Regions from separate parts of the Homo sapiens genome. Here region 2 is linked to region 1. The links come from fine-mapping of genetic effects on gene expression. A gene starts in region 1. The other region holds a variant in brackets. All regions are shown on one strand. Distances are between the middles of the regions.

Region 1 (11,552 bases):
TCAAGACGAGCCTGGTCAACATAGCAAGACCCATCTCTACCAAAAAAAAAAAAAAAAAAGTTTTTAAAACATTGTTAAACATTTAGGCTGGGTGTGGTGGCTCACACCTGTAATCCCAACACTTTGGGAGGCTGAGACAGGTGTATCACCTGAGGTCAGGAGTTCGAGACCAGCCTGACCAATATGGTGAAATCCCATCTCTACTAAAAATACAAAATTAGGGCGGTGGCTCATGCTTGTAATCCCAGCACTTTGGGAGGCTGAAGCGGGCGGATCATGAGGTCAGGAGATTGAGACCATCCTGGCTAACACCGTGAAACCCCGTCTCTACTAAAAATGCAAAAAACTTAGCCAGGCATGGTGGCAGGTGCCTATAGTCCCAGCTACTCGGGAGGCTGAGGCAGGAGAATGGCATGAACCCGGCAGGCAGAGCTTGCAGTGAGCCGAGATCACACCACTGCACTCCAGCCTGGGCGAAAGAGCGAGACTCCGTTTCAAAAAAAACAATATTAGCCAGGCTTGGTGGCGCATGCCTGTAATCCCAGCTATTCGAGAGGCTGAGGCAGGAGAATCACTTCAACCTGGGAGGCGAAGGTTGCAGTAAGCCAAGATCTCCCCATTGCACTCCAGCCGGGGCAACAGAGAGAGACTCCATCTCAAAAAACAAAACCAAAAAACAAACATTTAGCCAAGCGTGGAAGTGTGGCGGCATGCACCTGTAGTCCCAGCTATTCAGGAGGATTGATTGAGCCCAGGGGTGGAGGCTGCAGTAAGCCATGATCACACCACTGCACTTCAGCCAGGGCAACAGGGCAAGACCCTGCCTTAAAAGAAACAAAAACAAAACAAACAAACAAAAACTGCGGGAGTTTGAGCGTGCCCTGGAGCATGTGAGTGGCCATCTCCTCATCTGTAAAATGGGCTGGGGCCCAGGAGACTGATGCCCACTGGCTCTGGCTGAGAGGCAAATGCAGGGAGCTGACCCACAACCACTCTGCTCACTGACTTGGGACTTTACTGGTTCCCAAGGTTGAGCCCGTCACCATTGCTGTGCCGGACCCCGGTCGTGCAGAAGAGACCACCCCCTCACTGTGTGCCAAGCACCTCACTGGGGACGTCACCAAATCTTGCCAGCACCCTGTGGAAATGGAGAGAACTATTCCCATCCTAGGAAAATGACCTGAAGTTCAAGGTCACCAAACGGCTGAGTGTCAGGGACAGTACCTGTTTACACAAAGGGATAGGAGCTGTTTCTTCTGCTTCCATAAAAGCCTGCCAGCTCTGACCATTCACCTTCAGTCCCTCGGCAGGATCAAACCCAGGCCTGATGCCCGAAGGAGCTGGGCAAATGTTTACTGTTGAATTTGAGGGCGGAGAAAGGGCCAAACCACAGCTATGACTCGCCTGCAGGGGCCACCCAACAGAGTCGTCCTCTCCTGATGGCTCCCAGTCACAAACCAAGCTCTAAGGTGCCCACCACCCTCTTCCCCTTCCCACCCTACTCCTGTGTCTCACTCGGCTCCAGGGCATTGCCACTGAAGAACCCCCTACCCCAGAAGGGGACACACCCAGCCCATTTCACACCAGACAAGGCCACAAGCAGGCCCAGCAACCTCTAAAGGGACTCCTCGCCATGAGGGCACTGCCCTTCTCCAAGCTGGAACGAGAAGGGGCAAGGAAAAAAGGCAGAGACTATGAATCCTATGGGGACAAAGACAAGACCACCCTCAACCCAATCATTAACAACCTCCCTTCCTGTCTGACCCAATCTGCATCTTTTTTTTTTTTCTTTCAAGGCGGAGTCTCGCTTTGTTGCCCAGGCTGGAGTGCAGTGGGGCGATCTCAGCTCACTGCAAGCTCTGCCTCCTGGGCTCATGCCATTCTCCTGCCTCAGCCTCCTGAGAAGCTGTGACTACAGGCGCCTGCCACCACGGCCAGCTAATTTTTTGTATTTTTAGTAAGACAGGGTTTCACCTGTTAGCCAGGGTGGTCTCGATCTCCTGACCTCGGGATCCGCCCGTCTCAGCCTCCCAAAGTGCTGGGATTACAGGCGCGAGCCATTGCGCCCAGCCTTTTTTTTTTTTTTTTTTTTTTCCTAAACAGAGACTGGGAGGAGCCGGGCACGGTGGCGCACGACTGTATTCCCAGCACTTTGGGAGGCTGAGGCGGGCAGATCACCTGAGGTCGGGAGTTCAAGACCAGCCTGGCCAACATGGAGAAATCCAGTCTCTACTAAAAATGCAAAATTAGCCGGGTGTGATGCCGCGTGCCGTAATCCCAGCTACTCAGGAGGCCGAGTCAGGAGAATAGCTTGAACCCGGGAGGCGGAGGTTGCGGTGAGCCGAGATCGCACCATTGCACTCCAGCCTGGGCAACAAGAGAGAAACGCCGTCTCAAAAAAAAAAAAAAAGAAAATAGAGACGGGGTCTTACTATGTTGCCCAGGCTGGTCTGGAACTCCTTGGGCTCAAGTGATCCTCTCACCTCAGCCTCCCAAAGTGTTGGGGTTACAGGTATGAGCCACAGTGCCCAGCCATCTGCAGCCTCATAGGACAAGCTCAGAGGGTACAGACCCAAGCTCCATCTCCAAAAGCTCTCAGTGCCCCCAGGAATGAGCCCTTAGTGCATCCCCAACACTGCTCTCGGCACATGACACACAATCTTTTTTCTTTTTTTGAGACAGTCTTGCTCTGTCACCCAGGCTGGAGAGCAGTGGTGCGATCTCGGCTTACTGCGACCTCCGTCTCCTGGGCTCAAGCAATTCTCCTACCTCACCTTCCCAAGTAGCTGGGATTACAGACGCGCACCACCACGCCCAGCTAATTTTTGTATTTTTAGTAGAGAAGGGGTTTCACCATGTTGGCCAGGCTGGTCTCGAACTCCTGACCTCAGGTGATCCACCCACCTTGGCCTCCCAAAGTGCTGGGATTACAGGCGTGAGCCACTGCGCCTGGCCACAATCTTTATTTTAATTCCCATGATGCTTCTATGAGGCAGCAGAGCCCGGAAGTTAAAGGGGCTGTGAAGGCCTTCACAGTGCTGAGATCCAATCCAACCCTTGCTACTTAACTACCTGGGTGACCCTGGTCATTTTCTTTTCTTTTGAGACGGAGTCCGGCTCTGCCGCCCAGGCTGGAGTGCAGTGGCGCGGTCTCGGCTCACCGCAAGCTCCACCTCCCGAGTTCACGCCATTCTCCGCCTCAGCCTCCCCACTACAGGCGCCCGCCACCACGCCCGGCTAATTTTGTTTTTTTGTATTTTTAGTAGAGACGGGTTTCACCATGTTGGCCAGGATGGTCTCCATCTCCTGACCTCGTGACCCGCCCGTCTCGACCTCCCAAAGTGCTGGGATTACAGGCGTGAGCCACCGCACCCAGCCCACCCGGTCACTTTCAGGTCTCCAACCTTCGATTTTCCTCATCCCCAAAATGAGAATAACAATAACATCCACCTGTCAGGACTGGTTTGAGAATGAAAAAACCTAAAGCAGGATAAGGGCTTGTTACATTACTGGCAGAAGCCGCCGCCCCATTCTGTAGGGGAAATAGAGGTTCACAGAGGTAGGGTCACCTACCCAGGATCAAAGAACTAGAAAGCGGCAAGTGTGGGACTGGAAGGGGCCACAGGCTGGCTGCAGTGCACCAGCCCTCTTGCACTAGGCTCTGCTGCCTCCCTACGGACAGGCCCAGAGCCCAGATCCTGGAGAAACCGAGGCCCCACCCTCTTGGAACCACCAACAGGGCCCTAGACGCCCATCAGGTGCAGGAGGAAGGGGCCCAGAGGAGGGGAGGGCCAGGCTCAGGCATCGGAGGCAGAGAAGGGCCGGGACGCCGGCGTCTGCGAATGTCTACACCGGGCGCCCGGGGGCTCAGCAACCCGCGAGCACTTGTGGACGCACACCAGAGAGGGGGGATGACAGGCGCCCCGCAGGAGAGGCCCGTGAGGGTCGCAGCAAACCTGGGGGTTTCGTGGAGGGCTGTGAGGGTCCCGCGAGATCCGCGAGGTGTCTGGGTCTGGGAGGGTCGGTCGAGCCCGCAGCTCGGGCCATCCGGGCCTCTGCCAGCCCGGGATGAACTGCCCGCACCCCGGCCGCACCCTCCGGGTCGGCCCGGTTACCTTCCTCGCTGAAGGGCGCCGGGAGGCCGAGGAAGCCGCTGGGGGCCAAGGCCGCCGCCACCGCCGCAACTGCACCCTCGCCCGCTTCCCGCCCGGCTTCGGCCTGGGCTTCTGCCGTATGAGCGGCCGTCACCCGCACTGCCATCGCGCCCTCCATGTCGCAACGCGCCGCAGGAAGATGGCGGATTTACGACCATGTCGTCATAACAACGGGCCGCGCCGAGGCCAGCGTGAGGGAACGGCAAGAGGAGGGCGGGGCAGAACCGGAGCGGATTGACGGACAGGCGGGGAGCCGGGCCTGGATAGCGGTGTGGCCTTAAAGGGCAGAGGCGGGGCCGGGCGCGCTGAGAGCGAAGATGGGGCGGGACTGTGGGGAGGGCGTGGTTACGGTGGAGCAGATTGCCAGCCAGGGGGCGGGGCGGCAGAAGGACCTATGTTCGAGGCTGCACTCGGATTTGAGAGCCAGAGAACGCGAGGGGCGAGCGGACTGGCGGCTGCTAGGCAGCCGCGCCCCAGCGCTTCCGTACCTAAGGACAGGTCGCCCCGCCCGCGGCTGCTGCTGGGAAGCCGCCACAGCTCCAACCAGGGGTGTGGTGCCTGCTGCCCACTGACCGCCTAGGGTGTTAGAGCCTCCCAAGATGGTTACCCGGGTCACGGGAAAAGAACACGGGTCGGGGATGGCTCATGGGTAGCTCTGCGAAGCTGTTTTATTCTTTTATATACTTTTAATTTTTTTTTCTTTCTTTTTTGAGACGGAGTCTCTTTCTATCGCCCAGGCTGGAGTGCAGTGGCGCGATCTCGGCTCACTGCAAGCTCTGCCTCCCGGGTTCACGCCATTCTCCTGCCTCAGCCTCCTGAGTAGCTGGGACTACAGGTGTCCGCCACCACGCCAGGCTAATTTTTTGTATTTTTAGTAGAGACGGGGTTTCACCGTGATAGCCAGGATGGTCTCGATCTCCTGACCTCGTGATCCGCCCGCCTCGGCCTCCCAAAGTGCTGGGATTACAGGCGTGAGCCACCGTGCCCAGCCACTTTTTAAATTTTTTAAAATTTATTTGCATTATGTATTTTAAATAGAGACAGGGTCTTGCTGTTTAGACTAGGCTGGTCTCAAACTCCTAGCCTCAAACCATTTTCCCATTTCGGCCTCCCAAAGTGCTAGGATGACAGGCGTGAGCCACGACTCCCAGCCACGTTGAATTTTTGGTTTTGGAGATGGGGGTTGTTTTTGGTTTTTGTTTGTTTGGGGTGTTTGTTTTTGAGACAGAGTCTCACTCTATCACCTAGGCTGGAGTGCAATGGCGCGATCTCACTGCAGCCTCCGCCTCCTGGGTTCAAATGATTGTCCTGCCTCAGCCTCCCGAGTAGCTGGGACTACAGGAGTGCACCACCATGGCCAGCTAATTTTTGTATTTTTAGTAGAGACAGGGTTTCACCATGTTGGCCTAGATGGTCTCAAGCTCTTGACCTCACGATCTGCCCGCCTCGGCCTCCCAAAGTGCTGGGATTACAAGCATGAGCCACCGCGCCCGGCCTGTTTTTGTTTTTTGAGATGGAGTCTCGCTCTGTCACCTAGGCTAGAATGCAACGGCACGATCTTGGTTCACTGCAATCTCCGCCTCCCAGGTTCAAGCGATTCTCCTGCCTCAGCCTCCTGAGTAGCTGGGACTACAGGCAACTGCCACCACACCCGGCTAATTTTTTTATATTTTTAGGAGAGACGGAGTTTCACCATGTTGGCCATGCTGGTTTTGAACTCCTGACCTCAGGTGATCCGTCCCCCTTGGCCTCCCAAAGTGCTGGGATGACAGGCATGAGCCACCGAGCCTGGCCAGATTTTTTTTTGAAACAGCACCTTGCTCTGTCGCCCAGGCTGGAGTGCAGTGCCGTGATCTCAGCTCACTGCAGCCTCTACCTCAACCACCCAAGTAGCTGGGACTACAGGTGCCCATCACTAGCTAATTTTTGTATATTTTGTAGAGATGGGTTTTTGCCATGTTGCCTAGGCTGCTATAGAACTCCTGAGTTCAAGCGATCTGCCTGCCTCAGCCCTCTTACATACTTTTAAAAAATTGTGGGCCAGGCACAGTGGCTCACTCCCGTAATCCCAGCACTTTGGGAGGCTGAGGTGGGTGGATCACCTGACATCAGGAGTTCAAGACCAAGCAGGCCAACATGGCAAAATTACGTCTTTACTAAAAATACAAAAATTATCTGGGTGTGGTGGTGCACGCGTGTAATCCTAGCTACTCAGGAGGCTGAGGCAGGAGAATCGTTTGAACCTGGGAGGCAGAGGTTTCAGTGAGCCGAGATCGTGCCACTGTACTCCGGCCTGGGCAACAGAGCAAGATTCCGTCTCAAAAAAAACTGTGGTAAGTGCACATAAAATTTACTATTAGCGACATTCACAGTGTTGTGCAACTATCACAGCTATGTGGGTACAGAACCTTTCCGGCACCCTGAAAGGAAACCTGTGCCTTTGAAGCAGTGATTCCCCATCCGCCCCTCCCTGCCAGCCCTGGGTAGACGCCAGTCTACCTTCTGCCTCCATGATAAATTTACCTGTTGTGAACATGTCCTACAATATGTGACTTTCATTGTTTGTTTTTTGAGGGTCTCACTCTGTCATCCAAGCTGGAGTGCAGTGGCATGATCTCGGCTCACTGCCACCTCCGCCTCCCGGGTTCACGCCATTCTCCTGCCTCAGCCTCCGGAGTAGCTGGGACGACAGATGCCCGCCACCATGCCTGGCTAATTTTTTTGCATTTTTAGTAGAGATGGGGTTTCACCATGTTAGCCAGGATGGTCTTGATTTCTTGACCTCGTGATACGTCCGCCTTGGCCTCCCAAAGTGCTGCGATTACAGGCGTGAGCCACTGCGCCTGGCCCTGTTTTGTTTGCTTTGAGATAGGGTCTCACTCTGTCACCCAGGCTGGAGTGCATTGGTGTGATCCTAGCAGCCTCCACCTCCAGGCTCAGGTAAGGTGATCGGCAGTCAGGTTGGGGTAACAATGGGCCCGCTTTCTGCAAGTAGGTTGCTCACCACTGCAAGGTTTTGAGCAGAGGGAATGATGGTGGGTGTTGCAGAAACATCCCTCTAACTGCTGCACAGAAAAAGGGACTTTAGGCCGGGCCCAGTGACTCACGCCTGTAATCCCAACACTTTGGGAGGCTGAGGCGGGCAGATCACCTGAGGTCAGGAGTTCAAGACAGCCTGACCAATATGGTGAAAGCCCGTCTCTAGTAAAAATACAAAAATTAGCCGGGTGTGGTGACGGCTGCCTGTAGTCCCAGCTACTCGGGAGGCTGAGACAGGAGAATGGCCTGAACCCGGGAAGCGGAGGTTGCAGTGAGCCGAGATCTCGCCACTGCACTCCAGCCTGGGTGACAGATCGAGACTCTGTCTCAAAAAAAAAAAAAAAAAGGGGATTTTAGGGCTTAAGCAGAAGCAGGAAGGGGCTCAGAAAGCCACTGAGAGCCAGAATGGGTGGTCTCTGAGTGGGGCAAACAGAACGAAGAGCAGGTTGGAGCTTTTGGAGCTTGAGGGTTCTGGGGAGCTGCTGGGGAGGAGGACCAGGAGACAGGTGGGTGAGGTGAAGCCATGGAGGAGGTGAGTGCAGAGCCCCAAAAGACCTCCATTCATGGTGTGCTGAGGAGTAACTGAGAAGCCGGTATCCAGGGGATTTAGGGGTATGGATGGGATGATTGTCCCCTCTAAACTCATGCTGAAACTTTATCCCCAATGTAACAGCATTAAGAGGTGAGGCCTTCAGCCGCCCCATCCGGGAGGGAGGTGGGGGGGTCAGCCCCCCGCCCAGCCAGCCGCCCCGTCCGGGAGGTGAGGGGCGCCTCTGCCCGGCCACCCCTACTGGGAAGTGAGGAACCCCTCTGCCCGGCCACCACCCCGTCTGGGAGGTGTGCCCAACAGCTCATTTAGAACGGGCCAGGATGACAATGGCGGCTTTGTAGAATAGGAAGGCGGGAAAGGTGGGGAAAAGATTGAGAAATCGGATGGTTGCCGTGTCTGTGTAGAAAGAGGTAGACATGGGAGACTTTTCATTTTGTTCTGTACTAAGAAAAATTCTTCTGCCTTGGGATCCTGTTGATCTGTGACCTTATCCCCAACCCTGTGCTCTCTGAAACATGTGCTGTGTCCACTCAGGGTTGAATGGATTAAGGGCGGTGCAAGATGTGCTTTGTTAAACAGATGCTTGAAGGCAGCATGCTCCTTAAGAGTCATCACCACTCCCTAATCTCAAGTACCCAGGGACACAAACACTGCGGAAGGCTGCAGGGTCCTCTGCCTAGGAAAACCAGAGACCTTTGTTCACTTGTTTATCTGCTGACCTTCCCTCCACTATTGTCCTATGACCCTGCCAAATCCCCCTCTGTGAGAAACACCCAAGAATGATCAATAAAAATAAAAATAAAAATAAAAATAAAAATAAAAAAAGAGGTGAGGCCTTTAAGAGGCAAAGGGGGCCGGGAGCGGTGGCTCACGCCTGTAATCCCAGCACTCTGGGAGGCCGAGGCAGACGGATCATCTGAGGTCAGAAGTTTGAGACCAGCCTGGCCAACACAGCAGAAACCCCCATCTCTATTAAAAATACAAAAGTTGGGCCGGGCACGGTGGCTCATGCCTGTAATCCCAGCACTTTGGGAGGCCGAGGCGGGGGGATTAAAAGGTCAGGAGTTCAAGACCATCCTGACCAACATGGTGAAACCCCGTCTCTACTAAAAATACAAAAATTAGCCAGGCCTGGTGGCATGTGCCTGTAATCCCAGCTACTCAGGAGGCTGAGGCAGGAGAATCGCTTGAACCTAGGAGGTGGAGGTTGCAGTGAGTCGAGATCATGCCATTGCACTCCAGCCTGGGCAACAGAGCGAGACTCTGTCTCAAAAAAAAAAAAAAAAAAAAAAAAAAGTTGCCGGGCGCGGTGGCTCACGCCTGTAATCCCAGCACTTTGGGAGGCCAAGGAGGGCGGATCACGAGGTCAGGGTATTGAGACCATCCTGGCTAACATGGTGAAACCCTGTCTCTACTAAAAAAAAAAAAAAAAAATCAGCCGGGTGTGGTGGCACACGCCTGTAGTCCCAGCTACTCGGGAGGGCGAGACAGGAGAATCGCTTCAACCCGGAGGCGGAGGTTGCAGTGAGCCGAGATCGCGCCACTGCACTCCAGCTTGGGCAACAGAGCGAGACTCGGTCTCAAAACGAACAAAAAAAAAATACAAAAGTTAGCCAGGTGTGGTGACACACACCTATAATCCCAGCTACTAGGGAGGCTGAGGCAGGAGAATTGCTTGAACCTGGTGGGGCGGAGGTTGCAGTCAGCTGAGATGGCACCACTGCCCGCCAGCCTGGGTAACAAAGTGAGACCGTATCTCAAAAAGAAAAGGGCATCCTGATCAGGTGACCTCAGGCCCTGCTTTGCCCAGAGCCCAGGCCACTGGCAAGCATGGGAGTGGATAGACCCTTGGAAGGCAGAGAGGCCAGGCACAGGCAGCAAGACTAGACCCTCCCTTTCTCCAAACGGCCTCCTTTCCCATGCAGGCCTCAGCCTGGCTCAACAGAATAATGCCTGTGGACATTCCACAGCCAGACCCAAACAGGAACTACAAAATCCTTTTTTTTTTTTTTTTTGAGATCGAGTCTCACTCTGTCACCCAGGCTGGAGTGCAGTGGTGCAACCTTGGCTCACTGCAACCTCCGCCTCCTGGGTTCAAGCAATTCTGCCTCAGCCTCCCAAGCGTGTGCTACCACGCCCGGCTAATTTTGTATTTTTAGTAGAGATGGGGTTTCTCCATGTTAGTAAGGCTGGTCTCTAACTCCTGACCTCAGGTTATCTGCCCTCCTCGGCCTCCCAAAGTGCTGGGATTACAGGCGTGAGCCACCGCGCCTAGCGGGCTACTTATATTTTCTATTGCAATGTAAATTGATGCAACTCTGTTAAGGTGAAATAGTGTCTGTTCTCGTGCCACTGAAAGCCATCCCCAGGTCGGCTTGCAGTACAAGATCCTTACTTGGGGAGACACTGGGGCCATCCCCTCACAGATAGAGACTGAATGCCTCCTGTGTGGGGGGCACCCAAAGGGGTCCTCTAGCCCCAGATGCAGGGCCACATCACCCTGTTCCCAAAGTCAGTCCTCTCCTATAAAGCGCACTTTCCTCCCAGCCTCCGCCAGGACCTTCCCCACAAGTGACCATGCCTCCCCTCCTACCTGCACACATACAGGCATATTCTGAGGACGTTAAGCCGACCAGATGGGGCAGAGCTCAGCTTTGGGGTTGACTGAGTTTAATCCCAACTCAACCTTGTCCAGCCGGCGACTCTCGGTGGCTCAGTTTGGCCATCTATAAATGGAGATGTGAATAATCCCTGCCTCTCAGGCCTGTCCTGTGACTCTGAGGAGGTAATGCAGGGAAGGAGCGGTGCAGCGGCCTAGGTGCTCACAGAGTGCCCAGGAAGCCAAGGCAGCCGGGCAAGTGTGGGAGAAGATGGCCCATGGCTGGGTATCATCAACAGTTCCCATTCCAGCCGTTGTCTCAAATCAACTACCTGTTGCTCTGTGGTAAAAGCAGAGTGTGATTCTTGTCAAATCCAGTTCTGCTCAAAGTCAAAGTCATCTTTTTTTTTTTTTTTTTTTTTTTTGATAGGAGTCTTGCTCTGTTGCCCAGGCTGGAGTGCAGTGGTGCAATCTCGGCTCACTGCAGCCTCCGCCTCCCAGGTTCAAGCGATTCTCCTGCCTCATCCTCTCAAGTAGCTAAGATTACAGGCATGTGCCACCACATACGGCTAATTTTTGTACTTTTGGCAGAGATGGGGTTTCACCATATTGGCCAGGCTGGTCTCCAACTTCTGACCTCAGGTGATCTGCCCGCCTCGGCCTCCCAAAGGGCTGGGATCATAGGTGTGAGCCACAGCACCCAGCCAGGATGAATTTCACAAACATTATGTTAAACCGTAGAAGCAAGAGCCAGAAGCACATACCGTATAATCCCAAGTATAAAGCAGTCCGGAGGCTTGGTTGTGACTCTATGGTGATAGGAGTCAGAAAAGTAGTCAGCAATGTGCTATCTGCTATTGACTGGATAGGAACAAGAGGGAACTTCCTGGGGTGTTGGAAATACTTTATACTTTGGTCTGGGTTATGTTTACACAAGCATATACATATGTAAAAAAATCTGCTGGGTGCGGCAGCTCACGCCTGTAATCCTAGCCCTTTGGGAGGCCAAGACAGGAGGATCACTGGAGGCCAGGAGTTGGAGACCAGCCTGGCCAACATAGTGGGACTCCGTCTCTACAAAAAATTTAAATTAAAAAAAAAATTAGGCGTAGTGGCACACACCTCTGGTCCCAAATACTTTGGAGGCTTAGGTAGGAGCATCACATGAGCCTAGGAGGTCAAGGATACAGTGAGCTGTGATAAGGCTACA
Region 2 (11,552 bases), 190 kb after region 1:
AGCCTGGGTGACAGAGCAAGACTCCGTTTAAAAAAAAAAAAAAATGCCACAGCCATAGATTGCTGGCTCCGGTCCCAGCTCTGCACCTCCTGGCTGGGTGACTCTGGGCCAGGCCCTTGGCTTCTCTAAGCTCTGGCCACAAAGTGGGTGAGGCAGTCCTCGTCATTCACTGTCCAGGTGGGCAGGAGGCTCACACAACGTGACGTGGCCTGACTCAGCCTTGAAGCATGGCCACTTCCGTGTTACAGAGGAGGAAACTGAGGCTCAGAGCCCCAGGGGTGTGACCCCTCAGGCCTTGTGGTCTCCCCACACCCTCGGACACCTTTTTCTAGGCAGCAGCGAAGGAGCTGGTGCAGGCCTCGGCTTTCTCTTTGGGAAACACGGGAGGAGGAGGCAGGGCTGGGGCTGCAGCTGGCCGGGGCCACCGGGTGGGAGAAGGGAGCCCCAGTGAGCAGACGCCTGGGGTGGCCAGCTGAGGGGAGCAGGAGCCAGAACCCAGGTGGACAGCAGCTGCGGCCGGCCAGGGCATGCTCCCGCTGTGTCCCTGACCGCTGCAGTGGCAGGTGCTAGGTCTGCAGGCAGTGACCTCATGCCGGCCTGCCAGGCAGAGCTGTTGCCACCCAGCCTGGTGCCCAGAGCCAGTGCTTATGCCGAGAGGAGCCTCAGGCCACAGGAGACAGACAGAGGGAAGCCTGGATGGACCCTTCCGGGGACAGGGCCACGTTCCTGGGGAGGCTGAGGGCTGAGAGGTGCTTCGGAGTCGGGATCCTGCCGGGCCTCGGTTTCAGCATCCGTAGGACCTCATGAGGACTCACTGAGCTGGCCAATCTCTCTGGCAGGGTCTGGCCCCCAGCAAGCGTTTGTCCAAGCGAGCTGTCGCTGTTATTGTGGGGAATAGAGCTCCAAGCAGAGCCGAGTCATCACCCCCAGGCCCTGCCCAAAGCAGAGACCCCACCACCCACACATCCAACTAGCACCAGTGTTGGGAGTGGGCAGCCCAGAACAGAGCCCCCCAGGCTGGCTCAGGTGATGGGAGAGAGGCCTGCACCCCAACAGAGGGCTCAGCCCCTGCCCCAGCACCTCAGGGGCAGCCAAGATGGTCACATGTAGGCTTGCAGCCAGGGCTTTGCGGTTCCAATGTCTAACTGGAGGGCCACGGGGGTGGTGGCAGACTCGCCTCTGGGCGGGGAGGGGCACGGGCTAGGCTGGTGGAGTGTGCCCCTGTTCACCCCGCTTGGCCTCCCAGCAGCAGTGGACACGCATGTGCACAGAATCGCCAACAGGCTGAGGTGGACCAAGAAGGCAACCAAGTCCCCAGAGGAGACCCGCGCCGCCCTGGAGGAGTGGCTGCCTAGGTATGAGTATGTGGGGGGCTTCCTAGGGAGAAGAGCTCACCCCGCCCGCCCTCTGTCAGCACTGACCCAGCCCCCACCCCCACAGGGAGCTGTGGCACGAGATCAATGGACTCTTGGTGGGCTTCGGCCAGCAGACCTGTCTGCCTGTGCACCCTCGCTGCCACGCCTGCCTCAACCAAGCCCTCTGCCCGGCCGCCCAGGGTCTCTGATGGCCGCATGGCTCTGGCCGAGGTGCCGCTGTGGCCACCGTCTGTGAAGTGGCTTTACGCTTCAGGAAGCCACGCCTGTTGAATAAAGCTTTGGTGTGTTTGCAGATGGGATCTGGCTGATGTCTGTCCCTGAGGGGGCAGAGAGCCTGGGAATCGCATACAAGGATGTGTTCGTACACACCCGTGCTCGCGTGTCTGGAGCAGGGCTGCCTGGGAGGCCGGCTGGGGACGTGACAATCTTTGCTATGTACTCAGGGAGGGGGAGGGGGTGTGCATGAACCTGGGAGGGAGGAAGTGGGGAGAGCCAGCTGCAGCCAGCTGTTGGAAGTCCGCTGGGGAAGCAAGCAGCCCCCGGGCAGCTGGCTGGGGACCCTGGCCCCTCATGCTATCCACCGCCGGCCCCCCAGCTTCCCAGCCCGGACACCGCCAGCTCCTGAACTTTCATGCCCTCAAAGCCCAGCCTCTGCCAGGGTCCCACCCCTGTTTACAGAGCTACCCGGCCTTGAAAGGGACACTGGGGACCCAGGCAGGGCGCCACAGGGTACAAAGCTTGACCTGTGACTGCTAGAGGTCGCAGGGTGAATTGGGCAAAGGGTGGCCCGTGTGGGTGTTGTGTGGGGCCGGATGGCTTCACAGGGAAGGTGAAGGTGGGAGGCTGAGTCTGCCAAATAAGAGAGATGGGCATGGGCCCAGGATGTGCCACACAGCAGGGGGTCCCATGGGGGTCAGCGGGGGAGATGGAGCAGGGCTGGGAGCAGATGGATGCAGGGCACGGGCTCAGGAACGAGACCGTTTCCAGCTGCTGAGACTCGGGGAGGGGGCTCCCTGAAACAGCCTCATCCCTCCACCCCTCTCACCCCACGGGGAGGAGGCTCAGAAAAGACAGAGGCGTGTGGGTCCCAGGCAGGGCCTGTTTATCCTGAGAGCGCGCATGCGCTATGGCTTACGAGGCAACAGCGGTGCCGGTCGATCGGTGGTCGGTTCGGGGGTGCGGGGCCCGGGAGGGAAGTGCAAAGTCAACAGGGTGTCCACGGGGGAGCCCGCCAAGCAGGGCTGAGCCAGAGGCCAGGCGTCCTTCCCGGGTGCCGCTCTCACACACCTACGTTCCCCAGGCCTGGGAGCTGCCGCGCGGAATGAGGGGCCTGTCCAGAGGCCGCCCTCCTCGGGGACGTGGGGCCTCCATCCTCAGGCCCCTCGGAGAGCCCAGGCCCCCAGCAGGGCACAGGCGCACAGGGTAGCTGGGTGGGGAGCAGGGTGTGGCCTAGGGACCCCCACACCAGGGCAGGTGGGCAGGGGCAGCTCCTACGGCCACATCAGGCCTCCCTGGCCTTACCCAAGGTCCCCACGAAGAGGCTGGGCGCCCCAACTTGGCCACTGGGAAGTCCCAGGGACTCCCACTCAGGACGGCCGCTGCTGAGGGGAGGGGGCGGGGAGGAAATGGTTTGCAGAGAAAGGTTTGTTTTATTGCAATTATTTAGAGCGCGTCCCAAGGGGGAGGGGAAGGGGGAGGGGAAGGGGGGGGGTCTCTGGTATTAAGTGGAAACATGTGTGGAGCTGGAGATCTTTTTGGAAAAAAAGCAAAAACACAAATTCCTTTCAGTCAGCAGGCCCCGGCAGAGCAGCAAAGGCCCTCGCCCCGCGGCTGCCGCGCGCTCGCTCGCTCTCTCTCTGTCTCTCTCTGTGTCTCTCTCTCTCTCTCTCTGTCTCTGTCTCTGACTCTCTCTCACATCTCTGGGTCTCTCTCCCCCTATCTTGCTGCCACAGGCCCCCAGTACCTGGTGGGCAGGGGCAGGATGGGGGCTCACCGGGGCTGGGGCTGATTTCTGGGCAATGGCAGGACCACCCTCCAGTCCACTGAGGCTGGGGGAGCTCGGGGCAGGCTGAGGCCCAAGGTCCGTGCGGGAGGGGTCCCAGGGTCCCGAGACAGGCAGGAAGGGGCTCAGAAGTTGCTGAAGATTTCACGCTTCCTGTTCCAGTCCATCTGTGGCGCGCGCTTGTTGACTCGCATGGCTCGAGCCTTCTCCTTGGCCTCGGCCGCCGTGGGGCTCAGGTGGAGGCCGCTCTCCTGGAAGGGATCTTGCTTCCAGGCACTGCCATCCTGGGGTGAGCACGGTGGGTGGGGTGTCTGGAGTGAGCCCTAGTCCCACACCCCAGACGGTGGCCCCTCCTAGGGAGCAACCAACAGAGGCTGCCTGCTGGGGCTGGGGCTCACGAGGACTTCCTGAACAGAGACCCCACTGCCCGGGCTGACATCTCCACAGACGCCTACCCCAAGGCCTCTAGCAACCCCACGTGTGAGCTCAGGAGTGGAGAACATCCATACCTCAGTGTCCTTGTCGGAACCAGGCAGGTCACTTCGGGACGAGCACGCAGAGCCACCATTGAGCTGGGAAACCAAGGGCAGATTGTGGTTTCACAGACACACACAACACCTGCACACGCACACATGTGCACAGAGGCACACCCCCCCCCAGTGTGTGCTCCTCCACTCGGCAGGGGGCCTCGGGCCTCTGGTGGACTCCAGATGCGGCGGGGCAGGCACCGGGCGCCTGGCAGTGACAGGCAGGTGGCCTGGCCGGCTCATGGTGCAGAGGGGGTTCAGGTGCAGGAATGGCCGGCGTGAGCAACGCCTGGGGTGAGGCCACCGCCAGCTCCCTGAGGAGGCAGAGACTGGAGGGCAACTCCTTACCAGGTGGTGCCCAGGAGAGGACAGAAGGCAGTGGCCCCGACCCCAGGGGCCCCACGTGGCTTGTGTGTGGCACGACCCAGGATGAGACCCACAGGGGCATTAAAGGGAGGTGACAGGGCTAAAATCGGGTGTCACTAGCACACCTCGAGGACGGATCTCCAGGGAGAAGGGGGCCTCTGTCGGGCCTGGGTACCCCCAGAGGCACCCTGTGTCTCATGGGCACCCCACCCTCTTACCTGGGCAGGGCTGGTTCCATTGGTGACGGGTGACGGCAGAGGACCTGTGGGGACAGCGTGTCAGTGGCTGCTCAGCCACCACACCGCACCCACCCTGTGCCCTGGGCCGTGGCCCACCTTCCACGTGCTCCTCGGTGGGTGTGACCCGAAGCCGCTTGAAGTGTTCATCTGTCTCGGGGTCCACGACCAGCAGCCGGGCCTCGTCCTCCCGTGCCTTGATGCTGGCCACCACCTCAGCATGGCGCAGTCCCTCCACATTCTGCCCGTTCACCTGCCGCCACCAGCATGTATCAGCCCCGCCATGGGCCCAGACAGCCCCCAACGCCGCGTGGCCAGGTGTGGCATCAAATATTCATCACAGCCACCGCCCACCGAGGCAGCAGGAGGCGCACCAGCTCAGGTTCCCAGCGTCTCCCTCCTCCCTGCAAGGACCCAGGGCCCCAGTGTGGACAGGTGCGGGGCACTCGGCACCCCGCAGCCCTGGTGGGCCGGTACCTCAATGAGCCGGTCCTGGGCGCGGAGGCCAGAGCGGGCGGCAGGTGAGCCCGGGTCCACAGAGCGGATGTACTGGCCGGGCCGGGACTTGTCACTATGCAGGTTGAACCCATAGCCCTGAGGTCCCTTTCGCAGGTGGCAGAGCCGAGGGCGCAGCTCCCTCAGGGGCCCACTGACATCCTGCAGGCCCAA[C/G]GGACAGGGTCAGTCTCTTGCTCCAGCCTCCCGCCTCCAGAGGCCACTCCCCGGTGGTGCCGCCACTGCCCAAACTCGGTACCGTGCCCCCCACGGGCAGGCCCAGGTCTCAGTGGCAAACACTCCGGGCACCCAGGCTGCCTGTGACAGAGCTTTAGCTGTGGGAACTTGGGCAAAGCCTGTTTTCAAACCCAGAAGCCTCCCCGACGGGCCCAGCCGCCTTCCCGGGTTGCTGGGAGAATTCCTTTGGCTCGAGGCCAGCGTGGCGCACAGGCAGGGTGGGAGGAAGCACCAGGTGGGATGAACTGTCGCCGTTGGCCTCCTGGGGCGGTTGTCCCTGAGGGCTCTGCCTGTGCGTCCCCCTGCCCCGGGCTCTCCTCCAGAGCGTGGGGCAGGCGCTCCTAGGCCAGCAGTTTTGTTTTCTCTCCAGAGGCCTCCGTGGGGCTGGCTGCGGTGGCGGCTCTGTTTGCTTTCACATTCCAGGAAAATGAGCCGCCCCACCCCCGTGGGCCCAGCAAGCAGGGGCTGGGGCAGGAGCTTAGTGTGGACAGGGCACAGAGGGCCTCCTGGTGCCCGGAAGGACCCCCCGCTACCATCCCAGGCCCTGCCCCATGTTACCTCTGGCATCCTGCGGTAGGGCTCTGGGCCAGGGGACCATGCAGGCAAGGCCAGGCCCAATGACCACCTCCCAGCCAGGGGGTGGGCCAGGGTGCGGCGGCGGTGGCCAGCGGCTGCCCGTGCTCAGTTAAACATGGCGGTGGCCGGAGCAGGCAGGAGGCAGCTCAGGTTTCCAGGGAGCGCCAAGCTTGAGGGCGTGCGCAGGGGAGACTGTGCAGGCGGGCTGGGGGCTGCCAGGGCCCTTCCCTCACCTCCTACCTCCCTGTGTGTCCCTGAGGGACCACAGGCCAGGCCAGGCCAGGGCTGGGGCGGCATGGCAAGGGGGCGCTCAGACCTCAGGAGGGCAGGTCTCCAGGCCTCAGACACCCCCAACCCCTCCAGCCACCCACCTTCAAGCTCGCTCCAAACCCCAATGGACCAGAAACGGCCATGTCAGCGGGGGGGACCGCCCCGCCAAGGGAGCAAGGGGGTCCTTCTCCACACAGCTAGTGCTCTGTCCCCTGGGCTCAGGACCTGCCCTTGGTCTGGAACACCCTTCTCCTGTCCAGCCTGCCAGATGCCTCATCTGAAGCCTCCTGCCCACCCTCTGAACCCTCTCTGCATGGCCACCACCCAGCCCGTCACACCAGAAACTCCAGGGACAAGCCTGTGGCTCCCTGGCCCCACAGGGGCTCAGCTGGGCCACATGGGCTGAATTAGAGGGTGCAAGACCCCCAAAATCTCCAGGGCCCCACCACATAGACTCACTCCTCCCCCAGACACACCTGGTGGCACAGGCGTGGGGCTTCAAGGCTGACCCTGACACCTGCCCACCAAAGTGCCCCTCAGGGATGCAGTCACAGCACGGCCCCCAGGCTGGCCTGGGACGCAGGGAAGGCGTGGGGACAGGAGTCCAGTTCGGGAGGGGAAGTGGAGCACAGCCCCCAGGCTGGCCTGGGACGGAGGGAAGGCGTGGGGACAGGAGCCCAGTTCGGGAGGGGAGGTGGAGCACGGCCCCCAGGCTGGCCTGGGACGGAGGGAAGGCGTGGGGACAGGAGTCCAGTTCGGGAGGGGAGGTGGAGCACGGCCCCCAGGCTGGCCTGGGACGGAGGGAAGGCGTGGGGACAGGAGCCCAGTTCGGGAGGGGAGGTGGAGCACGGCCCCCAGGCTGGCCTGGGACGGAGGGAAGGCGTGGGGACAGGAGTCCAGTTCGGGAGGGGAGGTGGAGCACGGCCCCCAGGCTGGCCTGGGACGGAGGGAAGGCGTGGGGACAGGAGTCCAGTTCGGGAGGGGAGGTGGAGCACGGCCCCCAGGCTGGCCTGGGACGGAGGGAAGGCGTGGGGACAGGAGTCCAGTTCGGGAGGGGAGGTGGAGCACGGCCCCCAGGCTGGCCTGGGACGCAGGGAAGGCGTGGGGACAGGAGCCCAATTCAGTGGAGGAGGTGGGAGCGTGATATGGGCCCAGTCCGCAAAGACACATCACACAGCCACAGACACAAGACGTCCACACACACCTGCAAACACGCACAGCAGCCCACACATGCGGCCAGCCCCACAGTGCTGGCCCGGCAGCCCTTCCCACGCCTGCACAGCGGCCTGCGGGGCAGGGTTTCTCAGGGCACCAGACAGGAAGCAGGATCTGGTGGGTGTCTGGGGCCCTGAGGCCAGGCCAAGGACCCCTCAGTGTTCTCAGGGTCATTCTGGCCACCCCTCTGCCTCTGTCCAGAAGCAGCCGTCTTTCACTCTACAAGGCAAGAAGTTCTGCCTATCAAACCTAAACCCCTTCATTGTCAGCAGGGTCCCAGTGGCGCCAGGCACAGCACTAAAACCTCAGGTGGAGGGGCTGCAATGGAGGGGCCAGGGTGGGCTGCTGGCAGCACATGGGCTCGTGGGGAAGGGGGGCCCAGAGAGCCGAGGAGCTCGGGCGGCGTTCATAGCTCACATTCCTCCTCCCTGCCCTGGCTCAGCACACACTTCCTGCCGCCTCCCGCCAGGCCCTCGGGCTCCCACGGGCTCCAGGCTCCCTCCCTGCCGGCGGCCAGCACAGAGCTGGACCATCCCTGGTCCCCCAGCCATGCCTGTGTCCGGACAAAGAGGCTGGCATGGGGGTACCCTGGGCACCCCCCCAGATGGTGACGCACCAGCCCTGGCAGAGAAAGGCCTTCATTGTTGCTCAGCGACCAGCCTGCTTACATCAAGGTCCCGGAGTCCCCTCCTTCCACCCCGGGAGGCTGAGCGGCTGCCGGTTCCTCCTAGCCCTCCCTTCCTCCCACCCCACCTGACCTGTACCAGCCTCTGGGGTGGGCTCCGTGGAGGGGCTCCCGGAGCCCGGGCAGGTGGCGTGGCACTCCCGGAGCGTGCCATGACAGCGGCACAGTGACAGCAAGTGGCAGGCGTCCGGCCGGGGTGGCCTGAACTCTCTGGCCGACCCAGGCTGCCACCCCACTTATCTACCTCCCTCTGCGGCCCTGGCTCCCCGGGGATGGGTGGGGACGTGGGGGCTGAGTCACTCTGGGGAGCAGGGTGATGACTGAGCCCGCTCCCCTGCGAAGGCTCCAGCCTGGCGCCCCCCACCCAGCTAGGCTTCCGTCCCAAGAAAGGAAGGAAGGAAGCTGCTGGAAGGCCCTGCCCTGCCCCAGGACCCAGGGCTGAGGGGACAGGGAGGAGTCCCGGCCCCAGAACACAGGACGGTCCTGTTGAGGCTCCAGAGGAGCAAGAGCCAGGGAAGCCCGGAAGCCCCCGCAGGCACCGCGCCCCAACCACACAGCCGCCTCCCGCAGAACTGTCACCCCTCACACCTGCTCTTAGCCCCCAAGGCCCTCCAGATGGGGGTGGAGACATGGGCTAGGGGCAGGGGGCAGAGGGCTCAGGGTCTGCCACCACCTCCAGGGCCTGGCACCGCTGGCCACCCCGTCTCTGTTTGGGGGCTGTCCCCTGTCGTCACTACTAGGATCAGCTGCACTGCAGCTGCGGCCACCCCCAGCCTGGTGTGGCCCAGGGCTGAGTCATCACTAACTAGGCCTTCACGGCCCCCAAAAGGAGGGGCCAACCACATCAGTGTCCTCCCCTGCCCACCTCCCCTATCCCCAGCCAGGACAGAGGACACTGAGAGCCACCCTTAGCTCCCAGGGGGCACCCAAAGTTGGGCCCTCTCCATCCTTCACCAAAGACAAACTACACACATCCCTTCCAGAGCTCTGCCTCTCTGCCACCAGTGCCCCCACTGGAGCCATCCCCGCAAGGTAAGCTTTGCCCTCCTGGGCTCCCTGACCATCTGAGGCATGCCCTGAACCCAGGCTGAGAAGGGCAGGATCTGAGCCTGCTCTGTGGAGGTCAGGTGAGGCCCACCTCTTCCTGCCCATGCTGGGAGCTCAGGTGAAGAAACCTCAGGTCCTGAGCCAGGCGCAGGGGCTCACACCTGTAATCCCAGCACTTTGGGAGGCTGAGGCAGGCGGATCACTTGAGCCCAAGAGTTTGAGACCAGCCTGGCCAACACGGTGAAACCCTGTCTCTACCAAAAACACAAAAATTAGCCAGGTGTGGTGGTACACGCCTGTAATCCCAGCTACTCAGCAGGCTGAGACATAAGAATTGCTTGAACCCAGGAGGCGGAGCTTGCAGTGAGCCGAGATCGCACCACAGCACTCCAGCCTGGGCGACAGAGTGAAACTCCGTCTCAAAAAAAAAAAAAAAGAAAGAAAGAAATGAAACCTCAGACCTCAGGGGCCGGGTACAGTGGCTCACACCTGTAATCCCAGAACTTTGGGAGGTCGAGGAGGGCAGATCACCTGAGATCAGGAGTTCGAGACCAGCTTGAGCAACATGGTGAAACCCCGTCTCTACTAAAAACACAAAAATTAGTCAGGTGTGGTGGTGCGCGCCTGTAATCCCAGCTACTGGGGAGGGTGAGGCAAGAGAATCGCTTGAACCCAGACAGCGGAGGTTGTAGTGAGCCAAGAAAGAAAAAGAAAAAGAAACCTCAGGTCTTGATGCCAGAAGAGAGAAGGGGAGACCCTGTTCCTTGGGTGCCCCCTGACCTCCTGGAGCCCCTGTCCCCAGCCAGACTCATGCACAAAGGGACCTGCCACTCAGGCCACCCTTTGTTCCTCTAAAAATACACCCAGAGGAAGCCCCTCCTAGGGCTTCCTGCAGCCCCCAGAGCCTGAAATAGCAGAGGGGGAAGGTCCCACCCAAGGCAAGGTGCCTGGGCCACTGCACCCTCCAGATAAAGTCCGAGGGCCGGATTTTTCCACAGGAAGGTGAACCATGCGTTTGTGTCCAAATCAATGGACAAACGCCTGAGGCAGAGGGGGAGCTTCCTCCTGGGGGAGGGAAGGTGGCTGGGAAAGAGGGAGGCCCCAACCCTCAGCCTGGAGACAGGGGCTTAGGACCAGCCAGCCCCCCTGCAAGGCCAGCCCCCCCACCAGCCCTGGGCTGGGCACCTTGGCCCTGAGCACCACTGTGGCCCGCCCTCAAGCCCCAGGAACAAAACGGGTCCCACAGGTCCCACGGGCAGGCCTGCGCCCAGGCTGGGCTCCCCACAGGGAATGCTGTCTCCCTGCCAAGCCGCTCCCCCCGGGCTCAGCTCCTAGGGGCAGCCAGCTTCAGCAGTGACGTCTGGGAAAGGGAGAAAGTGAATGTGTATATCCCCTGCACCCTCAGAACTCCAGATCCCACACCCCTGCCCCAAGCGCGGTTCTCACAGTGGGGTCTGGCCAACCCCTGGACTCATATCCCCTGAAGGGATTTCTTTCTTTTCCTTTTTTTGTTTTTTTTTGAGACAGTCTCACTCTGTCGCCTAGGCTGGAGTGCTATGGCGGGATCTCGGCTCACTGAAACCTCCGCCTGCCGGGTTCAAGCGACTCTCCTGCCTCAGCCTCCCAAGTAGCTGGGACTATAGGCGTGCCCCACCATGCCCAACTGATTTTTGTATTTTTAGTAGAGACGGGGGTTTCACCACATTAGTCAAGCTGGTCTCAAAATTCCTGACCTCAGGTGATCCACCCATCTCAGCCTCCCGAAGTGTTGGGATTACAGGCGTGAGCCACCGCACCCGGCCAGGGTTCTCTTTGAAAATGAAAAAAAAAAAAAAAAAAAGGTAGGAGAGAACATGGAGATAATGCCATCAGGGCCTCCAGGAAGATAAGACAGACAGCTTCAGGCTGTTCCTCCTGGTCCCCAAGGCCTGCCAGGCCGCCCCTCCCAGTCGGCCACCTAGCAGGAGGTGGAGCAGGCCGCCCCTGTACTTTTCTGGGTCTCCTGGCTGGGAGCAAGGGCAGGGGAAGGAGGAAGTACTACCCAGCAGGAGTCCAGGAGGAACAGCAGACAGGGTCCCAGGGCCCTCCCTTGTATCTAGGGGGAGGAGTGGGCTCACCCTGGAGCCTCCTGGACCCCCAACTCCACTCCCATGCTCCCAGCCCCACCTACGCCAGGCCTGGCAGAGTGGCCTCCTAGGCTTCCCCAACCACGGCGCTGCCTGTGGAGAAGGCCGGCCCTCTCCCAGGCCTTCCCAGCATGCAGGCGCCTTCAACAGAGACAAAGACAGAGCCACGGATGACACCCAGCACAGGCACAGAGCTGCGCACACGCAGACCTGGAATGCCTCTTCCCAGGGTTCCTCAGCCACGAGGCTGGGGGCTGGGGAGGCGGCAGCTTGTCAGAGTGACCCCTCGATAGGGCAAGTGGCTCTGGAGCATCCTGGAGAAGAGGAACAGGCCAGGCTGCCCTGACCCTACCCAGTTTAAAACACAGGCTGAGGGTAGAAACAGTGGCCCCCAGTG

Evidence for each region. PIP is the estimated chance that this variant, and not a neighbour inherited with it, causes the effect.
Region 2: its variant is fine-mapped to the expression of E4F1 in whole blood (TOPMed, PIP above 0.99).

Annotation. Positions count from the first base shown.
Region 1 is chr16:2,216,334-2,227,885 of GRCh38, reverse strand. E4F1 (E4F transcription factor 1) reads right to left here and starts at 4,295. Exons shown (of 14, transcript NM_004424.5): 1 at 4,116-4,295. The coding sequence starts at 4,272. RefSeq lists enhancers at 2,105-2,605, 3,861-4,000, 4,231-4,400, 7,331-7,955 and silencers at 4,081-4,170, 4,461-4,600.
Region 2 is chr16:2,029,936-2,041,487 of GRCh38, reverse strand. It overlaps NHERF2 (NHERF family PDZ scaffold protein 2), which reads right to left. Exons shown (of 7, transcript NM_001130012.3): 3 at 4,985-5,164; 4 at 4,607-4,760; 5 at 4,490-4,533; 6 at 3,888-3,950; 7 at 2,462-3,662. The coding sequence ends at 3,504. It overlaps NTHL1 (nth like DNA glycosylase 1), which reads left to right. Exons shown (of 6, transcript NM_002528.7): 5 at 1,250-1,355; 6 at 1,441-1,668. The coding sequence ends at 1,564. Among named protein-coding and RNA genes, the nearest start is that of NHERF2, 8.8 kb to the right of the region's middle. RefSeq lists enhancers at 4,258-4,840, 8,345-8,929. The variant C/G (reference allele first, on the strand shown) is at 5,177.